Homo sapiens: one gene and its partners. The protein of the gene in region 3 purifies or fractionates together with the protein of the main gene of each other region. This does not show direct contact. Each region holds a gene or a part of one and is shown on either strand. Other genes may lie near its edges.

What was found.
Region 1: the proteins of CNOT1 (region 3) and CNOT10 purify together in Homo sapiens (affinity purification with mass spectrometry; 4 studies listed by BioGRID and IntAct, with this or other methods). This does not show direct contact.
Region 2: the proteins of CNOT1 (region 3) and TNKS1BP1 purify together in Homo sapiens (affinity purification with mass spectrometry; 5 studies listed by BioGRID and IntAct, with this or other methods). This does not show direct contact.
Region 4: the proteins of CNOT1 (region 3) and CAPZB purify together in Homo sapiens (affinity purification with mass spectrometry; 5 studies listed by BioGRID and IntAct, with this or other methods). This does not show direct contact.

What each region holds. Positions count from the first base shown.
Region 1 is NC_000003.12:32,757,658-32,765,967, reverse strand, and holds part of CNOT10 (CCR4-NOT transcription complex subunit 10), read right to left. Parts: intron 6,511-8,310; coding exon 6,397-6,510; intron 3,236-6,396; coding exon 3,105-3,235; intron 1,514-3,104; coding exon 1,478-1,513; intron 1,287-1,477; coding exon 1,159-1,286; intron 919-1,158; exon of another isoform or gene 791-918; intron 1-790. UniProt on the Homo sapiens protein: Component of the CCR4-NOT complex which is one of the major cellular mRNA deadenylases and is linked to various cellular processes including bulk mRNA degradation, miRNA-mediated repression, translational repression during translational initiation and general transcription regulation.
Region 2 is NC_000011.10:57,307,467-57,315,776, forward strand, and holds part of TNKS1BP1 (182 kDa tankyrase-1-binding protein), read right to left. Parts: intron 6,424-8,310; coding exon 5,068-6,423; intron 4,053-5,067; exon of another isoform or gene 3,898-4,052; coding exon of another isoform or gene 3,772-3,897; intron 3,091-3,771; coding exon 929-3,090; intron 1-928.
Region 3 is NC_000016.10:58,521,001-58,529,310, forward strand, and holds part of CNOT1 (CCR4-NOT transcription complex subunit 1), read right to left. Parts: intron 7,649-8,310; coding exon 7,475-7,648; intron 7,106-7,474; exon of another isoform or gene 6,923-7,105; intron 5,139-6,922; coding exon 4,989-5,138; intron 4,360-4,988; coding exon 4,179-4,359; intron 2,843-4,178; exon of another isoform or gene 2,503-2,842; coding exon 2,370-2,502; exon of another isoform or gene 318-2,369; coding exon 183-317; exon of another isoform or gene 37-182; coding exon 1-36.
Region 4 is NC_000001.11:19,338,275-19,342,938, forward strand, and holds the end of CAPZB (F-actin-capping protein subunit beta), read right to left. Parts: intron 4,591-4,664; coding exon of another isoform or gene 4,488-4,590; exon of another isoform or gene 4,478-4,487; intron 1,344-4,477; coding exon 1,256-1,343; 3' UTR 501-1,255; downstream 1-500. UniProt on the Homo sapiens protein: F-actin-capping proteins bind in a Ca(2+)-independent manner to the fast growing ends of actin filaments (barbed end) thereby blocking the exchange of subunits at these ends.

The DNA of each region.
Region 1 (8,310 bases), on a different chromosome or scaffold from region 3:
TTCTACTGCTCCAGCCATGTAGTATTCGTCCTGCCACCCCAACAACTAATGTTTGCAGTTTCTTGGTGTGTCCTTTCAGAGATCTTTTATGCATGTATACAGGGTTATACAGAAACTGTTTCACACCTTGCTGTTTTCATTTAGTATGTCTTGGACATCTTTCCATTTTAGTACCTAGAGTTTATAGCTGCATTGTCTTCAACTGTACAGATGCACTATTATTTATATAAGTGATCTTTTAGACAGTTTTCCATCTTTTGGAATTTTAATAATTAAAACTGTCAACTTACTTCTTTTGTCTTTTTTTTTTGGGGGGACAGGGTCTCACTCCAGTTGCCCAGGCTGGAGTGCAGTGGCATGATCTTGGCTGACTACAGCCTCAACCTCCCAGGCTCAGGTAATCCTCCTACCTCTGTCTCCTAAGTATCTGGGACTACAGGAATGCACCACCATGCCTGGCTAATTTTTGGTATTTTTAGTAGAGACAGGGTCTCATTATGTTGCCCAGGCTGGTCTCAAACCCCTGGACTCAAGTGATCTGCCTGTCTCAGCCTCCCAGAGTGTGGGATTACAGATGTGAGCCACTGTGCCCGGCCCCAAGTTGCTTTTTATTCTGCTGATTTGAAATTTAAACATCTTTTTTTTTTTTTGAGACGGAGTCTCGCTCTGTTGCCCAGGCTGGAGTACAGTGGCACAATCTTGGCTCACTGCAACCTCCGCCTCCCGGATTCAAGCGATTCTCCTGCTTCAGCCTCCCGAGTAGCTGGGACTACAGGTGCGTGCCACCAACCTGGCTAATTTTTGTATTTTTAGTAGAGATGGGGTTTCACCATATTGGCCAGGCTGGTCTCAAACTCCTGACCTCATGATCCGCCTGCCTCGGCCTCCCAAAGTGCTGGGAGGCATGAGCCACTGTGCCTGGCAAAAAAAAATTTTTTTTAAAATAAAATCATCAAGAAGAACTTTCCTTTAAGTGTCTAGGTTCATTTACAATGCTGATTAGTTGTTTACCTTGCAAGAATATTTTTATATCTGGGAAAGTGATATTCCAATATTTAACAAACTGATCAGATGCTTCAAACAAAGTAACAAAAAATATAAACCTCAAACTTGTGTTGGCTGCTTTACAAGGTTCAGTTCCTCCCACTCTGGACTCACCTGGTGGAGACACTTTCGGGCTTTGTCATATTCGCTCCTCAGGCAGTAAGCGCTGCCAAGGTTGAACAGCATCACAGTCCTGGCAGAGTTGACGGAACTGGGGTAGCACTGAGGGGCCCGCTTACCAGCTGGGGAAAAAGAGTGTAGACACTGGTGAAGAGGCCGTGCCAACAGCAAGGAAGCAACCCAATCTATCGCCTTGAGGAGCCACTTGGCACAGCAGTATTCCTCAGGCAGAAAAACGAACACAGAAGATTTAGAATCTAAATTTTTGGGATGCAGGCCAGGCTACTTAAGTATCACAAAACTTCTTACTTACAGGATTCCATTGCTTCATTTTCACCTTTGTCTGATCCTACAAAAACACGAAAATAAATCTGAGGGGCAGAACAACAGAGCATATTTTCTTTCTTTTCTCCTCGGGCTCAGAAGGTAGAGGGCATATTTTCTTTTCTTTTCTTTTTTTTTTTTTTGAGATGGAGCCTCGCTCTGTTGCCCAGGCTGGAGTGCAGGGGCATGATCTCGGCTCACTGCAACCTCCGCCTCCTGGATTCAAGCGATTCTCCTGCCTCAGCCTCCTGAGTAGCTGGGATTACAGGCATGTGCCACCATCCCTGGCTAGTTTTTGTATTTTTAGTAGAGACGGGGTTTCACCATGTTGGTCAGGCTGGTTTTTTTTTTGGAGATGGAGTTTTGCTCTTGTTGCCGCCCAGGCTGGAGTGCAATGGCACGACTCACTGCAACCTCCGCCTCTTGAGTTCAAGTGATTCTCTGGCCTCAGCCTCCTGAGTAGCTGGGATTACAGGGGCATACCACCATGCCTGGCTAATTTTGTATTTTTAGTAGAGACAGGGTTTCACCATGTTGGTCAGGCTGGTCTTGAACTCCTGACCTTAGGTGATCCACCCACCACAGCCTCCCAAAGTGCTGGGATTACAGGTGTGAGCCACTGTGGCCAGCTGAGAGCATATTTTCTAAAAACCTAACTTTCTTTATGAAATGGAAATTTAATATAAAGCAATTTATTTACTTTTCATGTAGTGGAGATTCCATTAAAAAATGCCAGAATGCTACCACCCACCACCATCTCAAACCTGAGCACTAGTCTTGAGTAAAATGAATGTCACATAGCTTTAATTATTTAATTTTTTTTTTTTCTTCAGACAGAGTCTTGCTCTGTCACCCAGGCTGGAGTGCAGTGGCGTGATCTTGGCTCACTGCAACCTCCACCTCTCAGGTGCAAGCGATTCTCCTGTCTCAGCCTCCTGAGTAGGTGAGATTACAGGCTTGCACCACCACGCCCTACTAATTTTGTATTTTTGGTAGAGACGGGGTTTCACTATGTTGGCCAGGCTGGTCTTGAACTCCTGACCTCAGGTGATCCACCTGCCTCGGCCTCCCAAAGTGTTGGGATTACAGGTGTGAGCCACCGCACCCGACAATTATTTAGAAATTTAGCAATGACTTAAAACAAACTTTTTTTTCTTTCCTTATTTTTAAAATAGAGACAGGGTCTCACCAGGTTGCCCAGGCTGGTCTTGAACTCTTGGGCTCAAGTGACCCTCCTGCTACAGCCTCCCAAAGTGCTGGGATTACAGGCGTGAGCCACCACGCCTGGACTAAAACTGACTCTTGAATGCAATATTTTTACTCCCCTATGGATTTTAGAATCACTCCAAAGGAAAACAAATAAATAGTATCAGAACCAAAATTAACCATTCTAACAGTACCAGCCTTTCAAAAGTGAGAATTTAGATGATGTGATCATTAACTCTCAGGTCTACTTAGCAAACAACTGCTACAAAGTAAGTACAGACAAAAATGTGGAAAGCCAACCTAAAACTTTCTTCTCATTACCACCATGCCTAAATTTCCACACATCCTGAATTATGACAGGAGGGAAATGGAAACAGTGACCAGTTCTGATCAAAGATGTCCTCATTAACCTTGGTCCTGCTCATTTGAAGAGATCCCTAAGGAGACATCAGTGACATTCTCCGGGTTCAAGTGAGTAATGGCATCAGATATTCTGTCGAGAGAGATGAGGGCTTCTGCAGCATATAAATGTCCCAAAAACCTAAAATGAAAAAACAGATTCCAAACTGAAAAGTACAACGTCACAAAAATACCCAATGTAAAATAATGCTGGGTATATTATGTTATTATACATTGGATATAGGTCTCATATTTCATGTCCTTAAATTGAAATCTAAATTTATTTAGGTAAAACGAATCAACTGCCTGGGTGTAGTGGCTCATGCCTTTAATCTCAACACTTCAAGAAGCCTAGGTGGGTGGACTGCTGAGTCCAGGAGTTTGAGAACAGCGTGGGCAACATGGCAAAACCCTGTCTCTACAAAAAAAATACAAAAATTAGCTGGGCGTGGTGGCATACACCTGTAGTCTCAGCTACTCAGGAGGCTGAGGTGGGAGAATCACTTAAGCATGGGAGACTGAGGCTGCAGTGAGCAGTGATCATGCCACTGCACCTCAGCCTGAATGACAGAGTGAGACGCCATCTCAAAAAAAATAAAAATAAAAATTAAGATCGATCTCCTGATCTCGTGATCCGCCCGTCTTGGCCTCCCAAAGTGTTGGTATTACAGGCGTGAGCCACCATGCCCAGCTTTTTTTTTTTTTTTTAACTGGGGACCTTTTGATCTGCTCAAAATCTTAATGACTTTCTACACAAGAACAACACCACCACAAACTAAACTTTTATAGTTTTAAAACTCTCCAGGTTGAGCATGGTGGCTCATGCCTGTAATCCCAGCACTTTGGGAGGCCAAGATGGCAGATCACCTGAGGTCGGGAGTTCGAGACCAGCCTGACCAACATGGAGAAACCCCATCTCTACTAAAAATACAAAATTAGCCGGGCGTGGTGGTGCATGCCTGTAATCCCAGCTACTTGGGAGGCTGAGGCAGGAGAATCGCTTGAACCCGGGAGATGGAAGCTGTGATGAGCCGAGATCACGCCATTGCACTCCAGCCTGGGCAATAAGAGCAAATACAAAAAGTAGCCAGGTGCGGTGGCTCATGCCTGTGAAACTCCGTTTCAAAAAAAGAAAAAAAAAAAAAAAAGAAATTAGTAGGGCATAGTGGCGTGCACCTGTAATCCCAGCTACGCAGGAGGCTGAGGCAGGAGAATCCCTTGAACTGGGGAGGCAGAGGTTGCAGTGAGCTGAGATCATGCCACTGCACTCCAGCCTGGGCAACAGAGTGAAACTGTCTCAGAAAAAGAAAAAAAATTAGCCGGGTGTGGTGGTGGGCTCCTGTAATCCCAGCTACTCGGGAGGCTGAGGCAGGAGAATCGCCTGAACCCAGACAGTGGAGGTTGCAGTGAGTTGAGATTGTGCTACTGCACTCTAGTGTGGGTGACCCAGACAGACTCAGTCACACACAAACACACAAAGTCCAGTTCTCTCATAATGGCCGTATACACCACAATCTGAACACCAGCATCAGCTGCAATTCCCAACATTGGCATTTTGAGTTGGGCAATGATAAGGACGGAAGGTACTTTAGAGGCAACCCAAATGCCTTGAACTGAAAATTAGGATCTTCCCCATCTCCAGGCCTGAATATTGGACAAGATTTTCTTGCAGAAGAGCAGGAGCTCCCTTATATTTGAATTGTGACAAAGTCTCTTATATAGTTGAATGATTTATTACTTTTTTTTGAGATGGAGTCTCACTCTGTCACCCAGTTTGGAATGCAGTGGTACAATCTTGGCTCACTGCAGCTTCTGCCTCCCAGGCTCAAGCAATTCTCGTGCCTCAGCCTCCCGAGTAGCTGGGATTACAGGAGTGTGCCCCCATGCCCGGCTAATTTTCATATTTTCAGTAGAGATGGGGTTTCACCATATTGGCAGGGCTGGTCTCCAACTCCTGACCTCAAATGATTTGCCCAGGTAGGCCTCCCAAAGTGCTGGGATTACAGGTGTGAGCCACAGCGCCTGGCCTTAATTACTTAAAAAAAAAACAAAAACACTAGGTATGTTTGGGGATCACTAAAAAGCCAAAGAGTAAGTAGTTATATTTTGGCATTTGTAAGTATACACCTATACGATGAATGAAAGAACTGTTCTAATGTTGTGCAGAATACTCGTGGCTTTTGATAAAATTTCCAGGATCAGCACCATACAAAAATTCAAGCTGTATTTTATTTTTATTTTTTGAGAGGGAGTCTTGCTGTGTCACTCCGCCTGGAGTGCAATGGTGCAACCGTGGCTCACCGCAACGTCCGCCCCCCAGGCTCAAGTGATTCTCCTGTTTCAACTTCCCGAGTAGCTGGAATTATGGATGCCTGCCACCATGCCTGGCTAATTTTTGTATTTTTAGTAGAGATGGGGTTTTACCACGTTGGCTGGGCTGGTCTCAGACTCCCGACCTCAAATGATCTGCCTACCTCAGCCTCCCAAAGTGCTGGGATTACAGGCATGAGCCACCACACCTGGCCTGTATTTTACTCAATTTTGGTAAAAGAAAAGATAATGTGCTTTGGAAAATTTTAGAATGACAATGATATTAATGAAGAAGTATTTGCAGTTTGACTAAAACTAGCTGATTCTGGAATGATACAGTAGCTTGGAAAGATTTTTCAAATTCTTGTCTATTTTTTTTTTTTTTGAGACAGAGTCTTGCTCTGTAGCCTAGACTGGAGTGCAGTGGTGCAGAGATCTCACTGCAACCTCTGACTCCTGGGTTCAAGCGATTCTCCTGCCTCAGCCTCCTGAGTAGCTGGGATTACAGGTGCCCGCCACTACGCCCAGCTAATTTTTTGTATTTTTAGTAGAGGCAGGGTTTCACCATGTTGGCCAGGCTGGTCTTGAACTCCTGACCTCGTGATTTGCCTGCCTCGGCCTCCCAAAGTGCTGGGATTACAGGCGTGAGCCACCGTGCCTGGTCCCTCAAAGTAGATTTATCACATTGACCACACTCCTTTTTTTGTAGGTCTTCTCTCTGAGGACTTGACTTATTTGGAGAATTAAAGTGCTGCAGTGAAGCCTAGAAGTGGACACTAGAGTCCGAAGTTTTTGTCTCCTAACGCTCAGTACAGCACAAGTGAAAACATTTTCACTGCCGAGGCATGGGTTAAAAAACGTTCTTTTAAACAGTTGCTTTCCTTACAAATATATATTCCACTGGAGGAGTCAAAAGAAGCAACATAAACCACAAACCAAGGAGAAACCTCAAAACTAAAGAAACCAGGGACACACAGGGCAAGTCACACTTACTTAAGAGATCCTGACAGCTTGGGCTGCTGAAGAAGTTTATCTGCATGATTCAAAGCCATGAGGTTATCACCCAAAGCCAGAGCCACGTAGGCACTGCAAGCAAGTATGGAGCACCTATAACACAAAAGGGAAGGGGCCGAAAATCTCATTTTAAACATTGATAATGGTTATATTTGCTAAATAGGAAGAAATGCCCTTTAGCTGTGACAATCTGGACACCAGGAAAGAGGAGAGGAAGCCACGGTACTAATGGTAAGAATTAGATTGATGTATAAAACAATTCTGAAACACAGTTTGGCTATTTACATAAGTCATCTTTAGCTTTCATCCAATTGACCCACATCCCCAACAAAATAACCAATGGATTACAATACATAGCCTGTATGTATGTATGTATGTATATATGTATAGATAAATACACACACACACACACACACACACTATATATATATAGCCTAATGAGAACTAACTTCCATAGAAGTTTGCTTTTAATAACCTAGGAATAAAGCTATAGAATGAGATCTTATTCTTTCTACATATATTTGTGATATGCTAAGAAATAATTAACTTACTAAAGCATTCATTTACTTTAAATGTTCTTTTCTCAACCAATTAAGTCTACAGTTCTTGCTAAACCATAGTATCAAGAGTAACTAAAAAGTTTTATTCACACAGTTACTATTCTTCTAAAGGAATACTGAAGGAAAAAAAACAGGTTAAACAAACATATGTGAAGACAACGTTTAAGTTACATTGATTTCGCTAAGTTGGATTGGAAATCTAAGTTTCTATAATATTTGGTTTTCTACTTCACAGACAGCTCATTTAAAACAAGTCTGGTTAAAGACTTAATACTAATAGATCACTTGAATGTTAAACAACTGCTCCACAAAGCAATCTTAAAATAAACCCTTGTCAAATAGAAATGAAGTCTGAATGGCTAACCACAAATGACCTCACTCAGATACAGGGTTTTGAGTTATGTTTACAAATTACAATACACATATGTATCATTAAGTGCATTCAGGTTGTAATTTTAGTCTAAGGAAGAATGTAACCAGTATATCACCACAGAGTTTTGAAATGTTCTGAAATCCTCTGACTAGAAATGGCTCTTCCTATAAAAAGCACAGCTGGGCAAATTCAAAAGTATTCTGTTTCCTCTTCACTTGCTAACTTTTGGTTCCTAGAATCTTAGAAAACTACCCTAGAATTTGGTTCCTAGAATCTTAGAAAGGCAGCCCCTCAACTCTTAACAACACAGAAAAGTAGAGTGGTCCTTGAGAAGCATAACGAAATTGAGGTTTATGCCTTATACTACCATGGGAGGGCTGAAAGACTGTCTAGTGTGGTTCCTTGTTTAACTGATGTGGAAACAGAGACTCAAAGTGAGTAAACATAATCTTTAGCTTAGTGTGTGATTAGTTAGGTCTAATATTTGACATTGTAGACTCCCAATCCGCTGTTCTTCCCATCCAATCACATTGCTTCTTTATTAACTCACAAGACCACTTACAAAAAACACAACAGAAAAGATTCTTGTACATTATAATTTTCTAAGTTCTAGGCATACACAACATAGGTATTCTAACTTGTCTTTTTAAACAGGTAGAAAAAGTTTAATCCAAACATAAGTTTATATTTTGTCCCTGAGTATGTAATTTTAAATCTGACCCTTATTACAGAGGATAGTAATTTGAGAGCCAGCAAGTAGTGCCACTTTCAAAGGAATTTTCCTGGCAAGCCTACTATCAATATTTCTGGCTCTTCAACAGCTGGCTTTACCAGCAAGGTTGTCCCATGGCCACAGTCCCTACAATGAACCCTCCCCATGAAGGAAGACTCAGGGACCAGAGGCAGGAGGCTAGTTATCTCTCATCTTCAGAAGAATGTTAGTAGTTAGGTCTGTGTGGC
Region 2 (8,310 bases), on a different chromosome or scaffold from region 3:
CCAAATGCCTCTCCAGAGTCCCCAAGACCACCATGATATGCTCTAGCCCCTTCCTGCTCCTCTCCTCCCACCACCAACCCCTTCCACTTATAAAAGCCCCTGCCCCACACTTCCCTTGCCTTCCCCACATACCCAGTGAGAAGCTCCCACTGTGGGGCTGGAAAAGGTAACATTTTCTGCTCACTAAAGGGAATAAAAGCGAATCTCAATGGATGGAAATGTTAACAAAACGGATGCAATGCCTTTTTAGCACGTTTCTCAGCTGCAAAACCATCTCAGCTGGTTTTAAAACATCCATGAAACAGACTGTGCTTGCCTTGCAAAGCCTTTGGAAAGTTCTTTCAGCAAATTTGCACAGAGGCCAAGGTCATGGGGCCAGGTCCCCATACCCTTCAGGTTCTTGAACTTGCTATTCCAGGCTTCAAGACAGGACAGGCAAGAAGCACCAAGTACCTAACCTCTTTGAGAACCCGTGGGTTCCACTGTCCACTCCACTCCTGGCTGTGGTGGCCCCAGCCAAGAAGACACGGAATTCTCTGCCCTATACCTATGAAACCACCTGTGGCTTCAGGGCTGAGAGGCCTGGGGAACGGCTACTGTGTACAAGAGTAGAACCCATCAGAAACCATCCAAGCTATGACATGCACCATTTCCCCCGTCACAGTCACAATTCCAAATCACCAAGCTCAAACATGGGTTGCAAAAGTAACACATTAGTCATCCTTCAAAAAAGGAACTCACCTGTATGTGTATCATATTTCAATTATTTTTAAGTAGAACTAAAAATTCTTAGTCCAAAATGTCTCAATTACCCAAACACTAAAAGTCCTCAGGAAAAACTGTTTCTTCCCTCCTCAGAAAGGTTCCGATTTCTTGGACAGCCTTCACATGTTCCCTCCCACACTTGGGATGGGGCTCCGTTCATTACCTTGCTCCGAAGCTGAGGGCTTCTCCTGTCTCCATTCCAGGGTCTGCAGGGTGTGGCTCCAAGGAAGACGAGGAGTAATCTTCACCCTGGGTCTCTGGCCCACTTGTCTCACCAACCCCCAGCTCCCTGGCCTCCAAGGGGTCTCTGGCCTCCAGGCCAGGAGACAAGCTGCCATTGTGCCTCAGGCCGGGCTCTGGGCACTGGCTCACCCCGCCCACCCCATGCTCCCTGGCTTCACTTGGAGCCCCAAAGAGCTCCACATTCTGGGGCGCCAAGTCCTGGGTCCAGTCCATCTGCCCCACTCCACATCCCCGTAGCCCCTGAGAACCTCCAGAGTCTGGGTCACAGGTCACCTCCAAATCCCTCAGGCCCAGATTGTTACCCCAGTCCATCTGGCCCACCCCAAGCTCTTTGGACTCTCCAGGACTGCAGACTGCCCCTGGGGCCATGTTTCTCAGCCCAAGGTCAGGTGTCCAGTCTGCCTGTCCAACTCCACGCTCCCTTGATTTAAGGAACTCTCCGGCCTCCACACCTGACCAGTCAGTCTGCCCCACGCCACTCTCTCTGGCCTGGCTGTGGCCTCCTCCCTCCCCGACCTCAGCCAAATCTTTGCTCTTCACATTAACATCAGAAGTCCAGTCCTTCTCCCCAACTCCGATTCCCCCCGGCTCTTCAGACCCTCCACTTTCCAAACAGCCGGTCAGGTTCATGTCTCTCAAGCTCAGGCCACCTGACCAGCCCATCTGTCCCACGGCACTCTCCCTGGCCTCGCTCGAGCCCCCAGAACCCACACAGCTGGACACTTCCAAGTTCCTGAGACCCAGCTGGTCAGTCCAGTCCACCGAGCCAGCTGTGGTCTTCCCAGGAGGCACAAAGTGACCACCTTCCATCTTGCTAGAAGGGCTAAAGCCAGCACCACTCACTCTGTCGTTGCCAATGATGCCAAACTGATAGCTCCTCTCACTGGCCTCGATGCAGAAGTCCCGGCTCCAGTCCTGCTGCCCTGGGCTAAATGCTGCCTCTCGCTGGGGGCCAACACTGAGGCTAAACTCACCGACCCAGCCTCGCTTTCCCATCTCCCCATCTTCCAGGTCAGCACTGCCAGGGCCCTGAGCCCCTGCCTGCTGTCTCTCCTGATGCCCTCCCACCTCCTGGCTAGCATCACTGTTTTGCCAGCTGCTCTGGTCTCTCTGCCCGAGTGCCCCATCCGGCACGTGGGCAGTGCTAGGACTGAACAAGCCCCCGGATCCTCTCTCTCCTGGCCGGCCAGCATCCCTGCTGCCCTCTCCAAGGCTGTCTTCCACACTTGGAATCTTCTTCTCAAATTCCTCATCCTGTTGCTGGGCTTCCTCGGGGCTGAACCCAGAGCTCAGGGGTCTCGTTCCAAAGCTTCTGTCCTGGGCGTCAAGGGTCCTGGAGCTGCCACCACTGCTGTAGTCCCTTATCCAAGCGCTCTTCCCAAACTCCTGTTCCTGTGGCTCCGCAGCCCGGCTGCCATAGGTGCCGAGTGACACATCTCTCTTCTGAAACTCCCAGTCCTGCTCATCGGCATCCTGGCTGCTGTACCTACCATGGTGGTCCCTCTTCCCCAAATCTTGGCCCTGCTCGTTGGCATCTTGGCTGGCATAAGCACCCAGAGAATCTCTCTTCCCAAATTCCCAGTCCCCAAGGCTTACATCTCGACTACTGTAGGTACCCAGTGAATCTCTCTTTCCGAATTCCTGGTCCTGGAGTTCTGCATCCCGGCTGGAGTAAGTGCCCTGGGAATCCCTCTTTCTGAACTCCCAGTCCTGAACATCTGCCTCCTGGCTCCGCTGAGTGCCAAGCTGGGCTGGCTTTCCAACTACCCGGTCCTGGGCTGTGAGCACCCCTGGGGCAGACACTTTACTCTGGTCTTGGCTGCTGCTGGCCTCCATCTCCTCCTGGCCGATGCCACACCTGCTGGCCCACTCCCTGGTGCTCCCTTCCCCTGCTCCTTGCCCATACTTGCTGGTCCAGTCCCTCTCTCCGAGACCTGGGTCTCCTCTAGGGCTTGCACCCCCAAGGCCATAGTCCTGAGAAGCACCTTGACACCAGCTGGAAGGACTGAAACTGCTGGGCTGTGGGTCTCCTGTGATCCCAAATTCACTCTGCAGATCTTTCTGGGACCAGCCAAGGAGTCCCTGGGAATAAGAAAAAAAAACAGACAAAGAAACAACGATTAGATTCCATCAGGGTGGGAGTCAATCCAGCAGAGTCAGCGCTGCCTAGTGCCTGAAAGCCCCACTTTGGCAACAGAAAGCTGTGTGACCTTGAGCAAATCACTTAACCACTCTGGGTCTCAGCGTCCTCATCCTTAAACGAGGATAATTCCTATTGCATGGGGCTGGTGTGAGAGGATTAAATGAGATCATTTAGACCAAGCACTCAGCATAGTGCTTGGCATGCAGTGGGCACTCAATCGATGGTCCCATGGTCATGTTTACAACTCTTGGGCAATACTTGGCTAACAGCCAGGAGAGGAGTGGTCTTCACACAGGAATGGCAGGCAGTGCACTTTCCTTTTGATTAGGAGAGGTCAAGATTCAAAGCCTCTCTGCGACTTCCCTTGCAAGGCAAGGTTCCAACACCAATGACAGCTTTTCCAGCCCGTCCTCCCCCATGCCCCATCTGACCCCCATCCTCCTATAAGTACCCAGGCCCTTCTTCCCCAGCCAAAGTGCCGTCTGCTCAATCTTCCCCAGGAAGACCTCTCAGCCCTCACCCTGGCCCAGGAAAGACAAGAGGGGCAGCCTCTGGCACAGGGGAAAATCCCAGCCAGGGCTTCTTGCACCCCACCCCCCACCTCACGCTCCCTGACTCACCCTTGTGGGCGGGAGAGCCCTGGGCTCAGGGCTTCGGAGCCGGCCAGCCTCATCCCTCAGCGCAGCGTTGGCCAGCAGCCGCTCCAGGATAGACATGCTGGCCTCCCCATCCCCAGGCTGGGCCATGGCCCCCCGCCCCCAACCCGCCTTGGGGCTGCTGGGTGCGGCCAGCCGGGCGCAGGGATAGAGCTGGGCTGCTACCCGCGCTGGGACCTGTCCGACGGCTCTGGCGCTGGCTCTCCCTCACCCTGGCCCTGCTCCCTCCGGAGCAGCTGCAGCTTGGGCAGCCCCGCCCAGGAGCCAGTTGAGTCACCCACATCCCGGGACAGACACACCTACTACAGGAGTCAGCTTAACCCCTTCCTGCTCCTCCTTCTCCCCGCCCCGCAGCCCCCAGAGGCCCCCTGGCTCCTCCTTTCCTGCAGCCCCGCCCCTTGCAGCCCAGGCCCGGCTTGAGAAATAAATTTCGAAAGCCACCTGGCCCCCGGCCCTTAAATTCAGAGGCAGCCTGGTAGGAGAAAGGGCACTGGGCCGGGAAACGGCGCTGGCCCGGGCCCAGCCACCAACTTGCTGGATAACTGCACAAGGCTAACCTCCTCTGAGGCCCAGCTGCCTGTCTACAAAGCAGGTCTGGAGCTCAATGTTAATAACGTTTGTAAAAGCCAACACTTCTTAAGCACTTAGGATGAGCCAGGCACTATTCTTAGCACTTTAGACATTACAGCTCATTGAACCCTTGCCAACACCCTTGGAGGTAGAACTCATCTTGTTATCCACATTTTACAGATGTGGAAACTGAGGCAGAGGGCAGAAAAGTCACTCTTTTAAGGTCACACCTGGGCAAAGGAAAGCAGAGCCAGGAGATGAACCCAGGAGCCCACGCTCTAAATGGCTACACTATTTTGCCTTGAACGATATTCCCATAATGAGAGACTGAATACTCAGCACCTGCCACGCACTGTGCCGAGAGCTTTCCACCTCGATTTACCCACAATATAACTCTAAGAGGCCAATGCTACTATCAGGAAAGCACTCTGAAGCCCAGCAGTTAAGGTACGTTCTTCCCAAGACCAATCAGCTAGCGATTGCTGGAGCTGGGATAGAGCCTCACACGAAACCCCACACACACACCGTCCTGTGTGGCTCTGCAGAGCTACAATCTGCAGGTCCACAGCTGCCTTGCTCACTACCACAGCCCAAGCTCTCGACATGTAAAATCCATGTTCAAAGAATGAAGCCCACCCAAGCCCTGGCCTCTGTCCCCAGAAGTCCCATTCTCCCTATGCCCATTCTCACCTCAGAGCAGGTACTTGGGGACTGTGTGTCCTTCAGCTCAGCTCCAGCTCCCCGCCTTGCACCGCCACCACTGGGTGGTGGTGAAGCCAGGAGGTCGTCCAGCCAGCGGGAGCTGCTTTCAGGGCCTGGAGGCTCGGGGGATGCCCTACACAAGTCTTGAGCCTCTGTCCTGGCTTGGGTGGTCTCAGCCCGGGCTAGGGTCACGGCCTCCTCCTCAACAGGCAGTGCCTGTCCAGGCTCAGGGGCATCAGCAAAGAGAACACAGGGCTGGTCAGGGGCTGCTGGCTGCTCCTGCCCCAGGACTGGCTCCAGGATGGGCAAGGCTGCCTCCCTGGTAGCCAGGGGGAGAGGGGACTCCTGTCCAGCCAAGGGCTCCTGCGACTCGTATCTCTCCTCTGCCTGCTGCAAAGGTAATCCAGGTGTGCCCTCAGTTGTAGGCAGGGGCTCAAGGGGAACAGCTGGGAATTGAGGTTGACTCTCCCCATCGCCCTTCTGGGTGAGGGACATGCTTGGATCATCCCCCTGCACCCAGGAACTTCCTGACCCACTTGGAGCTGACCCAGCCCCTTGCCCCTGCTGAGACACTCCTTCTTCCCTGCTGGAAACGGCCAAGTTGCCAGCCTCAGCAGCCTCGGCGGCCTCACTGGCTTCAGTGATGGGGGAGGGAGGCGGGGAGTCCAGCCGCCACACGCCCAGACCCGAGGGCCTCGTGGGGAAGGTCCATTCGAAGGACTGTGATAAGCTCCAGTTGGACTCTGCCCCAAAGGGACGATCCAGGGCCAACTGGCTCCCCTGGCCTTGGGGCAGGGCAGCCAGCGAGCCCCCCAGCTTCTCCTGGTCCTGACTGGGTGACTGGAGCACACCTTCAGAGAATCGGCGCTGAACCAGGCTGGTGGGGCGGAGGTGTGCGTCACCCTTGGCCTCCTCCTCCCCGCCAGATGGAAACGTCCGAGTGAGATCCAGCAACTCACCCACCTCGATCAGGGGCCGGGGTGAGGTGGCAGGGGGCTGATCCAGGCTATGGGGCTCCAAGACCTCAGGGGGTGGGCTGCTGGGTCTGGGGGCCTCTGGAGCCCCCTCGGCAGGGAGCCCCGGGCTGGGGGTGTGGCGGGAGCCCTCGTCAGGCAGGGCTGCACTTGGAGCTGATGGAGTCACAGCGGGGCAGGGAGAAGCCTGGGAAGCTTCAGGAGTCTGGGCTTCCAGAAGCTGTGAGTGGCAGGGAGAACTCTTATCAGGCGGGTGAAGATGGGGAGAGCCAGGGCCTGAGCCTGAGGCTTCTGCGGGGAGGCCTGGGCTGGCAGGGCCTCCATTCTCTGAGGAGGGGGCTGGACTTGAGGGAATCCAGGGCTTGGAAATCTGCAAGAGAAAGAAAGGTCAAGATCCGTCACTCACCTCTCAGCGGGGCGGGGAGGGTCCCCTCCGACCCCACACAGACCCCAGGTCAGCTTCTCCCAGGCTGGGAGGAGGCAACTGGAACCCGAGGGGGTCCTCTTGGGATAGCTGGGAGGGGCCCCACAGACGACTCAAGGCAGGACTTCTCACAGAGCCCCCTTTAGACCTTCTTCCCCAGAATGCGCCTATCCTTATTCACAAAGCATAATTCCTTTCGTCTCAGGTGGTTGGAACCCCTCACCCACTCAACCCAAAGCTCATGTGAGGATCTCCTCAGAGGCCACAGTTCGGGGTCCATAACACCTGCTTTATAAAGGGAAAAGGAACATTGTGAATCTGGCTCTTGAAGCACCTCAGCATGTGGGAGTCGTGAGGGGAGAGAGGGTTTCGCGTCCAAGCAGGATTCGAGGTGCAGTGCAGCTACAGAGCAGCTCGGGGGAGTGGCTACAGCGTGCAGGGGGTGCCCCTCATGGCACAGAAGGTGCCAAGGAAGCAGGAAGGCTATGGGACCCAGGCAAAAGGCACTGGGGGGTGTGACAGCGCCTGGCTTGAGCCGTCCCAGCACTGCCTCTTACCAGCATGTGCCCTCCCTCACATATGGCAGACACTTGGTCTCTCTGAGCCTCAGCTTCCCCATCTGTACATTAGGGCTGGTGGCAACAATGCTCATCTCCCAGTTAGGTGAGGGTGAAGGGAAATGTGTGCACTGGCCCCTCGGCATAGGACTCATGGGATGATGGCGGCAGAGAGTGGGGAGGACGTGGAGAGAAGAGGGGGACAAACAAGGCACCAAGCACCTGGCACTCCACCTGTCCCCAGACAATGAAGTGACTCTGGCTCCATCTGACCTTTGCCCTCTGCAGAGGTCACACTTCCCTGGCCGCCCTCTCCCATGTCGTTAATTCTCCCACATCATCACCTACTAGGCCTGGGCAAAATAAAGGGTCCTGCTTGCTTCTCAAGGTCCCTTCTGTTCCCTCCATGCTCACTCCCCTCTGCAACGTTCTAATGTCAAAGCTCGTGCCCTTAAACTACAGCACCCACAATTCTTTCTTGTTATTGACCCTTACGCACCCATCATTCCTTGAAAACCATAACCGCTGCATCACTGCAACCCTCTCCATCATTGTTGTGATAGCTTACAGTCATCTCCATAGCCAGATGCGACCCTTCCAGCCTCTGGTTCGTTGACCTCCTCTTCCTCAGTGACTGTGCGACCCATCCTCTCAAGGTCACACCCTAGACCTCATCCTTACCAGTGGCTGCAACCTCTGCATCATCTCAATCCCAAGTATCCCACTTGCCCACCCCCACCGCCTATCTGACCGGCTCACTCTATTTCCCCAACGCCCTTATTTTCAGCCCCTCTCATAGCACAGCCCCTTAACCCTAATTCTTTCTCATTGTCCCCCACTCCCCTCATACCCTCACCTCTCTTCTTATCACCATTAACGTCACTTTTTACTCAACACTCAACTCCCTCATCTGCTTCATCATACTGTTTAACCTGTTTAAATACAGCTCTCCAATACAGCTGGGCCAATCCTAGCCCAGCACCTGAGTAGCTGCATGTGGCTGGATAAAAACACACAATCGTGACAGCTGGTCTCACTCCAGATTCACTGCTGACCTCAAGCCGGCCCTAGAGCTGCCCAGAATCCCACGGCACTCCCCCTGCCATTCACTCCATGACTCTCCCAGGCAATGTTTTAGCATCTTCTCCCGTCAGACCTCCACACCTCCCCCAATCCTCTCTCAGCTGATGGCCTTGCTTCCTGTTCCCTGAGAACACAGAGGCCACCAGCAGAGAACCCCCGACAACCCCCCCACCGCCACACACACACACACCAC
Region 3 (8,310 bases):
TGTCCCATGCAGCACTGTGCGACCGACTGGAATAACCTGAAGGATGAAGACAGTTACAAATCTCTGATTAAAGAGTAGGCCTAACAATACCTTGCATCTCATTCAGCTGACCCAACCTAGAGACAGATGGTTTTCAGTCTCCAGTCTCATTCCTAGACAATTAAAAATTACTTTGAACTCACTTTTCGATTTCTGGGGCACAGTGTACAAATTCATGGTTCCAGAACTTAAACGCTGGGTTTTTAATCAGCTCAATGAAGGTAATAAGAAGACCCCAAGGATGTGGCCTATTTACAATCAACCGTTCCAAGAGAACTCTGGAAAAAGGGAGAAAGAGCTAGTTAATGTATAGAAGCATACAAATTCATGATTATTCTTCCATTACTTTTTTTCTAACTTCTCCCTGACTATTGAACCACATGCAAAAGTTTTCACCTTTAGTAAAGACAGGTGGATTAATATACTCCAAATAGCACAGGTTGGAATACCTGGGTTTGAACCCTGCTCTTAGCCGTAGAAGACTAAGTATTTATATAAAGTGCAGATAATGGTATCTACCTCACAGCTGTTCAGAATAAGGGGTGATGGGGGAGAGGAAGCCACATAAAGCCCAGAGTACATGGCACACAAAGTTAGTACAAAAAGTAGTAATTTCCAGAATGAGCTCCCAGGCCGGGCACAGTGGCTCATGCCTGTAATCCAGCACTTTGGGAGGCCGAGGCAGGTGGATCACCTGAGGTCAGGAGTTCGAGACCAGCCTGGCCAACATGGTGAAACCCCATCTCTGCTACAAATATAAAAATTAGTCAGACATGGTGGCCACATGCCTGTAATCCCAGCAGTCGGACGCTGAGGCAGGAGAATCGCTTGAACCCAGTAGGTGGAGGTTGTGGTGAGCCGAGATGGTGCCACTGCACTCCAGCCTGGGAGACAGAGTGAGACCCTGTCTCAAATAAACAGATAAATTAAATAAATAAATAAGCTCACTCTCAATAAAAAGGAAACAGAAAATAAGAATTAAGTATTCTAACACTGCAGGCTGGGCACAGTGACTCACGCCTGTAATCCCAGCACTCTGGGAGGCCAAGACGGGTGGATCACGAGGTCGGGAGTTCAAGACCAGCCTGGCCAAGATGGTGAAACCCCGTCTCTACTAAAAATACAAAAAATTAGCCGGACGTGGTGGCAGGTGCCTGTAATCCCAGCTACTCAGGAGGCGACAAAGCGAGACTGTCTCAAAAAAAAAAAAAAAAAAAAAAAAAAAAAAGCTAACATTGCTAGTTCACATGTAAATTGGTAAAATTTTTCCGAATGCCAGTAAGCATTGGCTTAACTTTATATCCTTTCACGTACCAACTGTACATGAAGCATAACAAAGATTACAAGTCCAAGGAGACTTACTGCAGCTTTATATAAACAAAATGGATCATCATCATCTAAGCATCCAATAAGATATTAAATTTTAGTACACAAATCAAAGGAATACCATATTTAGCACCATAGGTGACTAATTAGGCAAATGAGCAAGTTTTAAGAGTCTGGCCCAATTTTTAAAGTGTGTGTGTGTGTGTATCACAATCTCTCTAATGCTATATGTAGTCTAGGCAATCTGGCAACAGATTCCTAACTATTGTTAGGAAAATGCAAGTATGATCCTGTTATTGCTACTGCTTTCAACCCAGAGGTAATGAGGAAAAGTCCAAGTTCCTTAACATAGACTTCATAGGCCTGCATGATTTAGGACTGGTTATCACCACCACCTCAGAGAAACTCCTGACCTTTAATCAAAATGTGCCTTGTGGTAAACTACTTTTCATTTAAGCCATGATTGCGATTTATAATTCCCTATCTTGTGATAAATGTCCATCAGAATGAGTATTAAGAGGGCAGGAACCATCCATTTTGCTCACAATTGTATCCCACATTTAACACATTATTGGACATGTAAAAGATTTTCACTGAAGGCCGGGTGCAGTGGCTCACGCCTGTAATCCCAGCACTTTGGGAGGCTGAGGCGGGTGGATCACTTGAGGTCAGGAGTTCAAGATCAGCCTGGCCAACATGGTGAAACCCCGTCTCTACTAAAATACAAAAATTAGCTGGGCGTGGTGGCAGGCGCCTGTAATCCCAGCTACTTGAGAGGCTAAGGCACGAGAATCGCTTGAACCTGGGAGGCGGAGGTTGCAGTGAGCCAAGATGGCGCCACTGTACTGCAGACTGAGTGACAGAGCAACACTCCGTCTCAAAAAAACAAAAAAAAAACCAACCAAACGGATTTTCACTGAACACTGAAAGCATAAAGAGGAAAAAAAAAAGATGAAAGGGAGGAGATCCTTTTGAAGCATTTAAAAAATAAGCTGCTCGCTTACCTTGTGATCTGTTCTTGGATGGCTTCCGTATTGGCCTCTGCAAAAAGGTACAGCATGGTGCAACTGAAGTAGTGAGTGTGGCTATTTGGGTACCGGAGCTGATTTGCAATTGCATTCAAAAAGAGATAGCGACCTAGAAATTAAGAAACCTTGACTTAGGACTTAGTCTGAAAGGCCAACATGGGAAGACAGTTCTAACTGGCTAGGGTTTGGGTTTCTGACAGAGGCTTTCAAATTAATCTTTGGTTTAAAGCAGTGGTTCTTGGGACCCCAAAGAGTTCTCATTTCTGTGCGTTTTATTTCAGAATTTTCCACATTAGAAATTAGATTTTAAAAATATTCATTTTTAAAAACAGACCCACTATGTGCTAATGTAAGAAACATGAACTATTTTCTGGTGACACTCATCACTAAGTCTTTCTACATTTTGCAGATCTCTAAGTCTTGCTTAATAAAAGACAGCTGGATTCTCATTTCTGCTTCTGTGTTCAACTTGTTACAGTATATTTCATGTAACCTCTGAGAAATTCAACTGTACACTCATGACAGAATAGACCCAAAAATGTAAATGTTGTTTTATGATGAAAACAGTTTTGGGCCGGGCACGGTGGCTCACGCCTGTAATCCCAGCACTTTGGGAGGCTGAGGCAAGTGGATCACTTGAGGTCAGGGGTTCAAGACCAGCGTGGCCAACATGGTGAAACCCCATCTCTACTAAAAATACATAAAAATTAGCTGGGCATGGTGGCGTGTGCCTGTAATCCCAGCTCCTCGGGAGGCTGAGGCAGGAGAATCGCTTGAACCCCTGAGGCGGAAGTTATGGTGAGCCGATATTGCGCCACTGCCTTCTAGCCTGGGTGTGAGAGCAAGACTCTATCGCAAAAAAAAAAAAAAAAAAAAGTTTTGACCTCACAGCCCTCCTAAAAAGGTCTTGACACCCTAAGGGTACCCAGCCCACATTTTGATTAGTCTAAACTACACTGGAATAAGTATTATCTTAATTGGGTTTGGTTGTTTGCCTCTGCTTGACATTATTCGTGTTTGTGAGTCTGTCACAGTGACACGTTTCTCTAAAGGCTGCCGTCCTTTTATTGCCGAGCTCTTGGACGTGATGGTATTCAATTTTGTTATATCTTGAATTTAAGCTGTCTTAAATCCATCCCACATATAGGCATGCAGCATATATGCAACATCAATTCATCTCTCAAGAATCAATAGCAAAGTTAAAGAGTAGTGTCCCCCTAAAATATATGTATGCAAAACTGGACAGGACTGTACAACTAGTTAGCACCTAACTGGGGTCTCTATTTTATAAGATAAATATAGAGGACCAAATGAAATGTAGCTCAAGCAGAAAAGCTGCAACCTGCAACAGGAGTTATACTGTGAGCTTTTTGCAGAACAGGAGAGTCCTATTCATTAATCTTTATACATGAACATTTAACAAGATGCCTGCCAAACACGCACCAATAAAAATGCTTATATAAGGCAGCCTAACAAAACAATGTAACAAGAGGCTATGTTTAAAGGGACTTTAAGTTTATTTTCACACTAAAAAACTTCAGTCACATACACCAAAACTGATACTGCACGATTCTGGATAATTCTTTCCTTTATGCTTTTTTGTATTTCCTGCACTGAGCAGATAATGTCCAATTAAAGATAAAATAATCAGCTAGACCTGTGAATAAATATACTGACAGAACATTCCTTCACTATTGTGGCTTGAAGCATTTTTACATTTTTGTGATCAGATTGTAGCAAAAAGCACAGAGAACTCTACTCTGAAAACTGGCAGGCTTCACTCACCCTCAGTGTCCAAGTCCACAGCCAAATTCTGGAAGATATCCATGTGTGCTGAGTGAGTGATGGTGCTCATTGAAGGTGTGCTGCCCTTGTTGTGGATGTGCGCAATGGCCTGAGTCCCGACATAGAGCACCAGTGCATTGATGAGCTGGAGGTTGTAGCGATTCCCAGGTTCATTGGATACCTTAAAATGAGCAAAACAGAACTCCTTATGCTTACTCCTGCAGAGGACCAATTCTAGCACCAGTATTTCTAAACCCTTCTTACACCTTCATGGAAAGGCCAAACATTTATTGTGATTCACTTGCTTGAATTTGTGAGGTTATTTAACAAACACACAGATGCTCCAAAGGTGGTTGTATCAATAAGAGAAATGTGATTTCCCTCAGGAAGCCGAAGCTCAAGGCACAGCTCTAAAGTAAAGTTTATAAAATCAAAATATGCACTGTGCCAATTAAAGATTTGGAGAGAAAGTTGTAGTTGCATGGCATATACAGACTGTAAATATATAACTTTCCAAAATATCCTATAGAGAAATGTAAATCAGCATCCAGGTATTCAGAAAAATCCTAGGAGTACCAACAGCTAATGACTGTCTGTGGTCTACTCTTCTAGTGCTGTCTTGTCCAAAGCTGTAGCAAAATATCACTGATTAAATGAACTAGTAAAATACGTAAATCCAGTTAATCAACCTCACCCAATTGATGGAAATGACAATAAAAGACTAACTCCCAAATGGACCACACACAGGACCATACATAGAAAGTGCTTTATATGGAAGACGTAGATGAGTTTTAAGCCAAACCAATTAACCTGTAGGTTGCTGCGCAGATCAGACAGGAAAGTGACTGGTGATCGAGTTTTAAGATAGGAATCCAAATCCTTTTTGAACTGAGGTGGCATTACTCCAGTGAAATTGGTGAGAATCCGGGGAGCAATGTTAATTTCACTCAACATGTCCACCTGCCACAGATAAAATGCAAGAATCACAAGCAGAATCATTTTTATTAGTAAATTACATCTATGCTTAAGTGGTGGGACTGTTTTTCTAAAACTATATACACTATAAATGCCTTGAAGAGCACAGCTGCCACATTTTATTAATCAGTCTTTCTTTCTTTAGAAGAATCTTGGTTCAAAATGATAAAAATTTCCCACTCTATAATGTATTTCCTTCCCAGAGGCAAGATACCTTTTGGGCAAAGGTCTAATTTGCACAACTAACTGATTTTTCTTGGACTTCGGTTTCAAAATAATAATCCGGAATAAGATTCCTCACTCACCAAGAGTCTTTGAAAAGAAGCCCCAGCAAGACCAGACATCACACTTACTCCTTAAAAAAAAAAAAAAAAAAAAAAAAAATTGAAGCCGGGCGCAGTGGCTCACGCCTGTAAACCCAGCACTTTGGGAGGCCGAGGTAGGCGGATCACCTGAGGTTGGGAGTTCAAGACCACCCTGACCAACATGGAGAAACCCCATCTCTACTAAAAATATAAAATTAGCTGGGTGTGGTGCCTGTAATCCCAGCTGCTCGGGAGTCTGAGGCAGGAGAATCGCCTGAACCCAGGAGGCAGAGGTTGCAGTGAGCCACAGCTCGCGCCATTGCGCTCCAGCCTGGGCAACAAGAACGAAACTCCGTCTCAAAAAAAAAAAAAAAAAAAAAAATGCATGTGTCAGAAAGAGTAGAGACTACATCTAAACTATAGCTGGGCACTTCTAGTGGTGTGCACCTCTAGTCACAGCTACTCTGGAGGCTGAGGCAGGAGGACGGCTTGAGCACAGGAGCCTGAGGCTGAAGTGCACTATGTTCACACCTGTGAATAGTCACTGCCCTTCAGCCTGGGCAAAACAACGAGACCCCTGTCTCTTAAACAAACTATAGTAGCCATGTCAGGGTGGTGAGATTTTAAGTGGTCCTCTCTCTCCTTTATTCCAACAACTTACAAAAAAATACAGTGGGTTCTCCATACCCTTAGGTTCCATATCTAATTAACCTCAAATCGAAAATATGGGGGGTGAAGGTAGAGGTAGATGATGGGGTCAATAAAAAATAATACAACAATAAAGGCCGGGTGCAGTGGCTCATGCCTGTAATCCCAGCATTTTGGGAGGCCAAGGCAGGCAGATCGTGAGGTCAGGAGTTTGAGACCAGCCTGGCCAACTAGTGAAACCCCGTCACTACTAAAAATACAAAAAAAAAAATTAGCCAGGCATGGTGGCGGGCACCTGTAGTACCAGCTACTTGGGAGGCTGAGGCAGGAGAATCACTGGACCCCAGGAGGCGGAAGTTGCAGTGAGCTGAGATTGCGCCACTGCACTCCAGCCTGGGTGACAGAGTGAGACTCTGTCTCAAAAATAAATAAATAAATACAAATAAATAATAATACAACAATAAAAAACACAAATTTTAAAAAGTTATTAATATAGTTTAAAATAGTTATTTCCATAATAGCATTACACTACATTAGGTATCATAAGCACTACAGATGTCATTTAAGGGGATATGCAAAGGTTATATGCCACTTTACATACAGGACTTAAGCATACTTAAAATTTGGTGTCCCAGTGGGTCCTAGAACCAATCCTCCAAGAATAGCAAGGGACCAAGGAACAACTGCACAAGTGCACAGACACAAAACTGTGAAATATGGAGACTATGGCAGGGCGTGGTGGCTCACACCTGTAATCCCAGCACTTTGGGAGGCCGAAGCAGGCAGATTACTTGAGGTGAGGAGCTCAAAACCAACCTGGCTGACATGGCGAAACCCCATCTCCACTAAACACATAATTAGCCAGGTGTGGTGGCGAGTGCCTGTAATCCCAGCTACTTGGGAGGCTGAGGCGGGAGAATAGCTTGAACCAGCGAAGGGGAGGTTGCAGTAAGCCGAGACTGCACCACTGCACTCCAGCCTGGGTCACAGAGTAAGACTCTGCCTCAAAAAAAGAAAAAGATTACAAAGGTCTGTTTGTTCTGCAATTCTTTGCCATGTGGGGCACACCCAGCAAATGACTGCCCCAACACCTAAGCTGTGGTTCTGTAAATAGAGCTAAATTTAATATCAAAATTAATATGAAAACTAGCAACTAGAAAAATGCTGTGAACCAATATTCACCAGCAACAGCAATAGCAACAATATCATACCTTCTATCAGGCTTAATAACATTATTTCCTTTAAAGAGTACCCTTAACTAATAGTGTGCGTGTTATGTTGGGTAGGAAAGTGCTGAACAGTCTACTTATCAGAGAAAGGACTGAAATATTAAGACATAAGTTTTCCTTTAACTAGTTGGAACCTTACCTTTAGATTAGGAGTGAATGGGTCGGGGAGCCTCATGTTTCTTGGAAAGGCACTCAGGATCAAATTTCTTAACTGGATACAATTAGGTGGGATCACATCACAGAACCCATAATGGTAATCACAAAGGAACTCTGGGAAATCATGCAAAAGAACCAGCAGCACTCTTAAAGTGCCCTATTTTTAAAAAACAAGAAAAATATTTCCACACTAAGGAAAATGGAGTAACATTTTCCTATTGTAACTTAAGCCCCCCACCCCCCTCAAAAGAATGAAGTATACTTTAGTAACATTTCTTAAAAAGTTTTAGGCTTTAATTAACATTATCACAGATGATTTATCAAATATTTCCATTTAGGTATCATGAAAAACTAGGCATCAAGAGTTTACAGGCTGAAATGAATATGCTAGAAGAGGAGACTGGACAAAAAATAAAAATACAATGATGTAAGCGTCTATCTTCAGAAGCTAAAAAAAAAAAAGAACTAATGAAAACCAAAGAAAGTAGAGTAAAAGCATATAATAAATTTTTTAAAGTACTGAAAAGGGAGAAAATCAGGGCCCAAGTTAGTTATTAGAAAAAATAAATTGATAAACCCTAACCAAGGCTGACAGAGAAAACACAAAAATTATTAATGTCAGGAATGACATTACAGATCCTACAGTCATAAAAAATAGTTTCAGAACATTAAACGACTTTATGCTCATAAATCTGACAATTCAGATCAGTGGAAATAGAACACCTTAGCACACTGAGACACGCAAAGATTTCCTACACAAGTCACAAAAAGCAACTTTTAATATAAGTTTAAAAATCTGCAATTTTGACTACAATAAAT
Region 4 (4,664 bases), on a different chromosome or scaffold from region 3:
AAAAAGATGTTGCATCAGACCCAGGGACCTCAAACACATGGGCTGGCCAGGTTGTGGAGCCCGCTGATTGGCCACGGACAGATGGGGGGATGGTCTCGGCAGGGACTTTGAGATCTGCTTCAGATCTTCCCTGGGGCAGTTTGGAGGGTAGAAGGCAGACTCTGTGGCTCTGTGCAGCCTTGGCTGAGTTACTGCAACTGAACCTCGGCTGCCTCACATTTGTACTAGGCACAGTGGGAAGGCGGCGGGAGGTGCGTGCTGCGGCGCCAGAACAGTGTTTGCTGGTGCTTCTGCCCTCCAACGGCAGAGGGCGGAAAGGGACAGGGACTCTGCACCTCATCACATACCTGGTGTTTTCAGGGCGGCGGGGCTGGGGACGGGACACTTCCTTGCTGCCGTGAGCGGGGCCCACACGCGTCCCAGCTTGGAGCCAGCGCACGGCCACGGCCACACGCGCTCGGAAAGCGAGGCCGGCGAGAAGGAACACAGAAGGCCAGCGCTAACTGCGCCCCAGTTTCTTTTTATTGATTTCTTTTCTTTTCTTTTTTTAAGTATGGAGGCTCAAGTATAAGATGTAGATTTTTTTCTTAAGCTTTACAAAAAAACAAAATAAAACAAAAACCTCCTTTTGCATTCCATAGAAATTGACAGAAAAGCACCTGGCCGGAAGAGCGGAACGGTCGGCGGCACCCCCCCCAGCCCCCACCCCGCGGCCTCCGTGGGACGGGAGAGTCTGCGCAGGACGGCACCGAGGGCCACCTCTGCTCCCAGAGCTGTCCCCTGTCCCCACGACCCCCAACCCCAAGCAACTCCCAAACACACACGGAATAAGATTTCCAGTTTTTCTTCTCTCTTTCACACACCACAGTTAGTTCATAAAATTTTTTTGTTTTACATTTTTTACACCAATGTACCAAAAAGGTGGGAGGGAAGGGAGGCTGGCAGACAGTGGATTTTATGCCTATAAATGGGGGGACAGGGAGGAAGACGGGGGGCCCGGGTGAACAAAAACCACACGGTCTCTATGGAAATGTGGAGAGAACTGAGAGCGAGGTGTGGCAGAAGCAGGCTCGGAGCCGGAGGAGGGTGGCTATCGGCTTTATTCTCAGGGAGAGATGGCGCTGTGCGGTCAATGATGCAGCTGTTATGTGACCTGTCGGGGAGGGAAGGGACGAGGGAAGGGAGCAGAAAACGAGTTTTCTAAGAAAGGAATCTAACGAGTGCACGGCGTGTCTGGTTAGCATGAAACAGAGGTTTAGCATTGCTGCTTTCTCTTCAAAGCCTCCACCAGGTCATTCTTCAGAGCTTCTTGTTTTGATTTGTCTGCAAAAGTCTGCACAGACCTGCAAGGGAGGAAAGGCGTTATCAGCAGATTGAACAGGGACTGGTGAGGCGGTGGAGGCCTGGGGGCCACCATGCCAGTGCCTGGCTGATTTGCTGCATGGACCCGCTTCCTGGGGTGAGGCTCTGGGTCACTGGGCTGGGCATCTGCCCCTCTCAGAAAGGGGCAAAGGGGTACATGGCCGAGACCTGCACCCTCTGCACCTTGCCAGGCCCTGTGGGGGTGGCATATGGCTTACATGGACAGGTGCTCATCTCTGCCCCTGGCCACCGGTGACCCGGCCATAGTCCCTAGAACCCTAAGTTCACTCCTCTGTGTGTAGGTCCCTATGTCACCCTAAGCCACAAGGTGGCTTCTGGGCTTCCAAACACAATGGAACAAAGCCCCTCTGCTTCAGAACAGCTACCCTGGGTTGCTGGCTGGGGACTCAGGCCAGGGGCTAAGAGGGGAGGACTCCGGGGCCATGCGGGTTCCTCTATAAAAGCTTCTCCCTTGCCCAGGCCCTGCCCAGCAGAAGAGCCTCATTCCTCATCCCACAAGTGCAAGGTGCAGCGTTATCCCACCCTTGGGAGTGGGTAAGAACCAGTGTCTCTGCGTGTCTGAGCACACTGTGTTTATGGCCCACGCAGCAGGTGCTTTCAGGCCTCTGCTGTGAGGCACCATCCGCTGTTAACTTGGCCCAGAAAACCCCTCAGCCCGGATTGCAAAGGGCGGCACAGGACAGCCAAGTGCCCCTGGGATCCCTGCTGTCAAATTCTGGATTTGTGGGGAAACGTTCAGGGCGACCGCATTCACGTATGTGTGGGGACGCTCATCAACAAAGCCAGAAACAATGAAGGCTTATGGAGATTTCACAGTTTACAAAACGCCTTTCACATATATTATCTCATTTAATTTTCACGGGCATCCTGGGGAAGTCTCAACTATCAACCCGGCCGGATGTGGTGGCTCAAGCCTGTAATCCCAGCACTTTGGGAGGCCAAGGCAGGAGGATCATTTAAGGCCAGGAGTTCAAGACCAGCCTGGGCAACATAGTGAGACCCCATCTCTACAACGACAACAACAAAAAGCGAAGTCAAGGCTTAAAAAAGAAAAAAGCTATCAACCCAATTTACAGATGAGGAAACTGAGGCTCAGAGGAATGCCCCCCTAGCAATTCTTTAATCATTTTGTCAAATTTACCCAACATATTGGTTAGGCAAAGACTTCCTAAATGTAGGTTTTATAACAGTTTAGAAGCAGTGGAAAGAGTGGGTAGAGGGCTGCTCAAGAAGAGTGCTACGGAGAGTGCACTCAGCCGGACTCTCACGTTTGATTCACACCAGCCATGGGAAGGAAGAATCAGAAAAATCAATCCCCAGAAGCAAAAATGGGCAAATGGAAGTGAAGCAGGGCCCAGGAGAAGCAACAGCACCCAGACTGAGTTCTGGCTACCGAATCCCTACAAGTCACAGGAAGAGCCCTCAAAATACTCAGCAGGTGCCATAAGACAAGACCTGGAAGCAAGCTGCATACAACTGAAAAAACTCCCAGGAGAAACGCAGACATTTGGTTCATGCTGGGGAAATACACGTTTCTGAGTATCTTCCCAGGACTGTCCCTGGCTCTGCGGCGGCCAAAGGCATCAGCCCCCACGGCCCCCAGGCTCCAAATCTCAGCCGATTCCCCAGGGGCTTCTTGCCAAGCTCACAGCGGGAGGTCAACATGGCCAGCGGGAGATGCGGCGGGCAAAGCAGCAGCGCACAGGACCTCTAGCCTGGGTGGTCACTGGCTCTTCTGGGAAGGAAGAGCCAAGCCCGCCAGGTCTTGGCTGGATCACACGAAGGAGAAAGTTCCAGAGCTAGAATCATGTTAGACACAGGAAGTTAGAAGTGAAATGGTGGAAGGCGGAAGGAGCAGGGGGCTTATTTAAGGGACAATGCTTGGGAAGGTCACGGCCAAGCAACCTCGAATCAGCGCTTGGAGACAGTGCTCGACTCTGTGGGAGGGAGGAGTCATCTTGAGCAGACCTGGCTGCCAGGGTTTCTACGCCAGGACGCCCCCAGTGGGCGGCCAGGGAACTGCACCATCACGGTGTATCTTAAAAAGAGTTTTTTCTCAATGCCATGATGGAAATGCCTGATGGCCACACTGTGAGGCTGACCCGAGTCGTGGGCCTTAAGTTGGCACACACAGACCAGACTGGTGCACTTAAGTCCCACGGCCTCGGAAAAGCAGCTCCACCTGGTTTTCTAAGTGCCTGACCCCACCTCCACCTTGGAAAGTCTGCTGCACCCCTTCTGGGGTGGGCCTTCAGTGCGCAGCCCCTGGACCTGGGCTCTGCAGCCCCAGTTGGCAGGGTTCCAAATGCCTTCTTTTTACAAACAAGTTTCCCTCCTACTCTCCAGGGATGCTGCCTCCTTCCCTACATCTGGATCTGTCACAAGCTCAAGTCATGGTTCTTGGCCATTACCAACAAGCAAGACTATTTTCCTTTCCATTAGCGAAACCTGTTTAAAGGAACAGCTGCAGCTCGTTAGGGGCGGAAGGTTATGCTGGTTGTGGCCGAGTCGGCACTGGGCGTCCAGGCAGCTCCAGCAGAGCATCTGGGCCAGCCAGGGTGGAGTCCAGCCCTGACTCTGCCCTCCAACCCCAGAGACTCAGAGATCAGAGAGTGAGGTCACCCCTTCCAAGCCAGCTAGCCCTGGACAGGCAATGTGCCGCTGAGCAGCGGGGAGGCTTATGTGGCTTCTGGGATCCCTGCACCAGCATCAGAGGCTCCTCTGAAGCATGGGGGGGTGGACGGCAGGCAGATCCCTGCCCTGGGGACAGTCAGGCCGGTGCACACAAGTGGCTGCTGCTGGAGAGGCAGCATCCGTCCCTTGGCCTGGGCTTCTTCAGAAGCAAAAGCCAAAAAATCAGCCGTCTTCCCCACACCCAGCCTCCACCCAGAGTGGAAAGCACACACACGTGATAGGTGCCGTGTTACATGGGGCCGAGGCTACACGGGAATGTGGCTGTGCACCGACCGGGAGCACACGTGGGGGTTAGTGGTGGTTTAAATGGCCGCGGAGCAGCAGCCGGACCGGCAGGGTCTCGGCGGGTTGGTGAGTCCTGTTTTAGTGGGGAGGGTCTCGCGGCTCTCAGGCAGGGTACCTGGATCGGCTTAATTATCAGGCTGGATGTAGATCTGGCGCTGGGTCAGCACTTGAGAGAGCTCCCTCTGCAACTGCTTAAACTTTTGGTTGTCAGGGATAGCATCAATAGATCTACAGAGAGTGTTCAAGATGAGTGGAGTGGGAGGGAAGAGAACGACGAGAAGCCAGGAACGCAGGGGGCCACA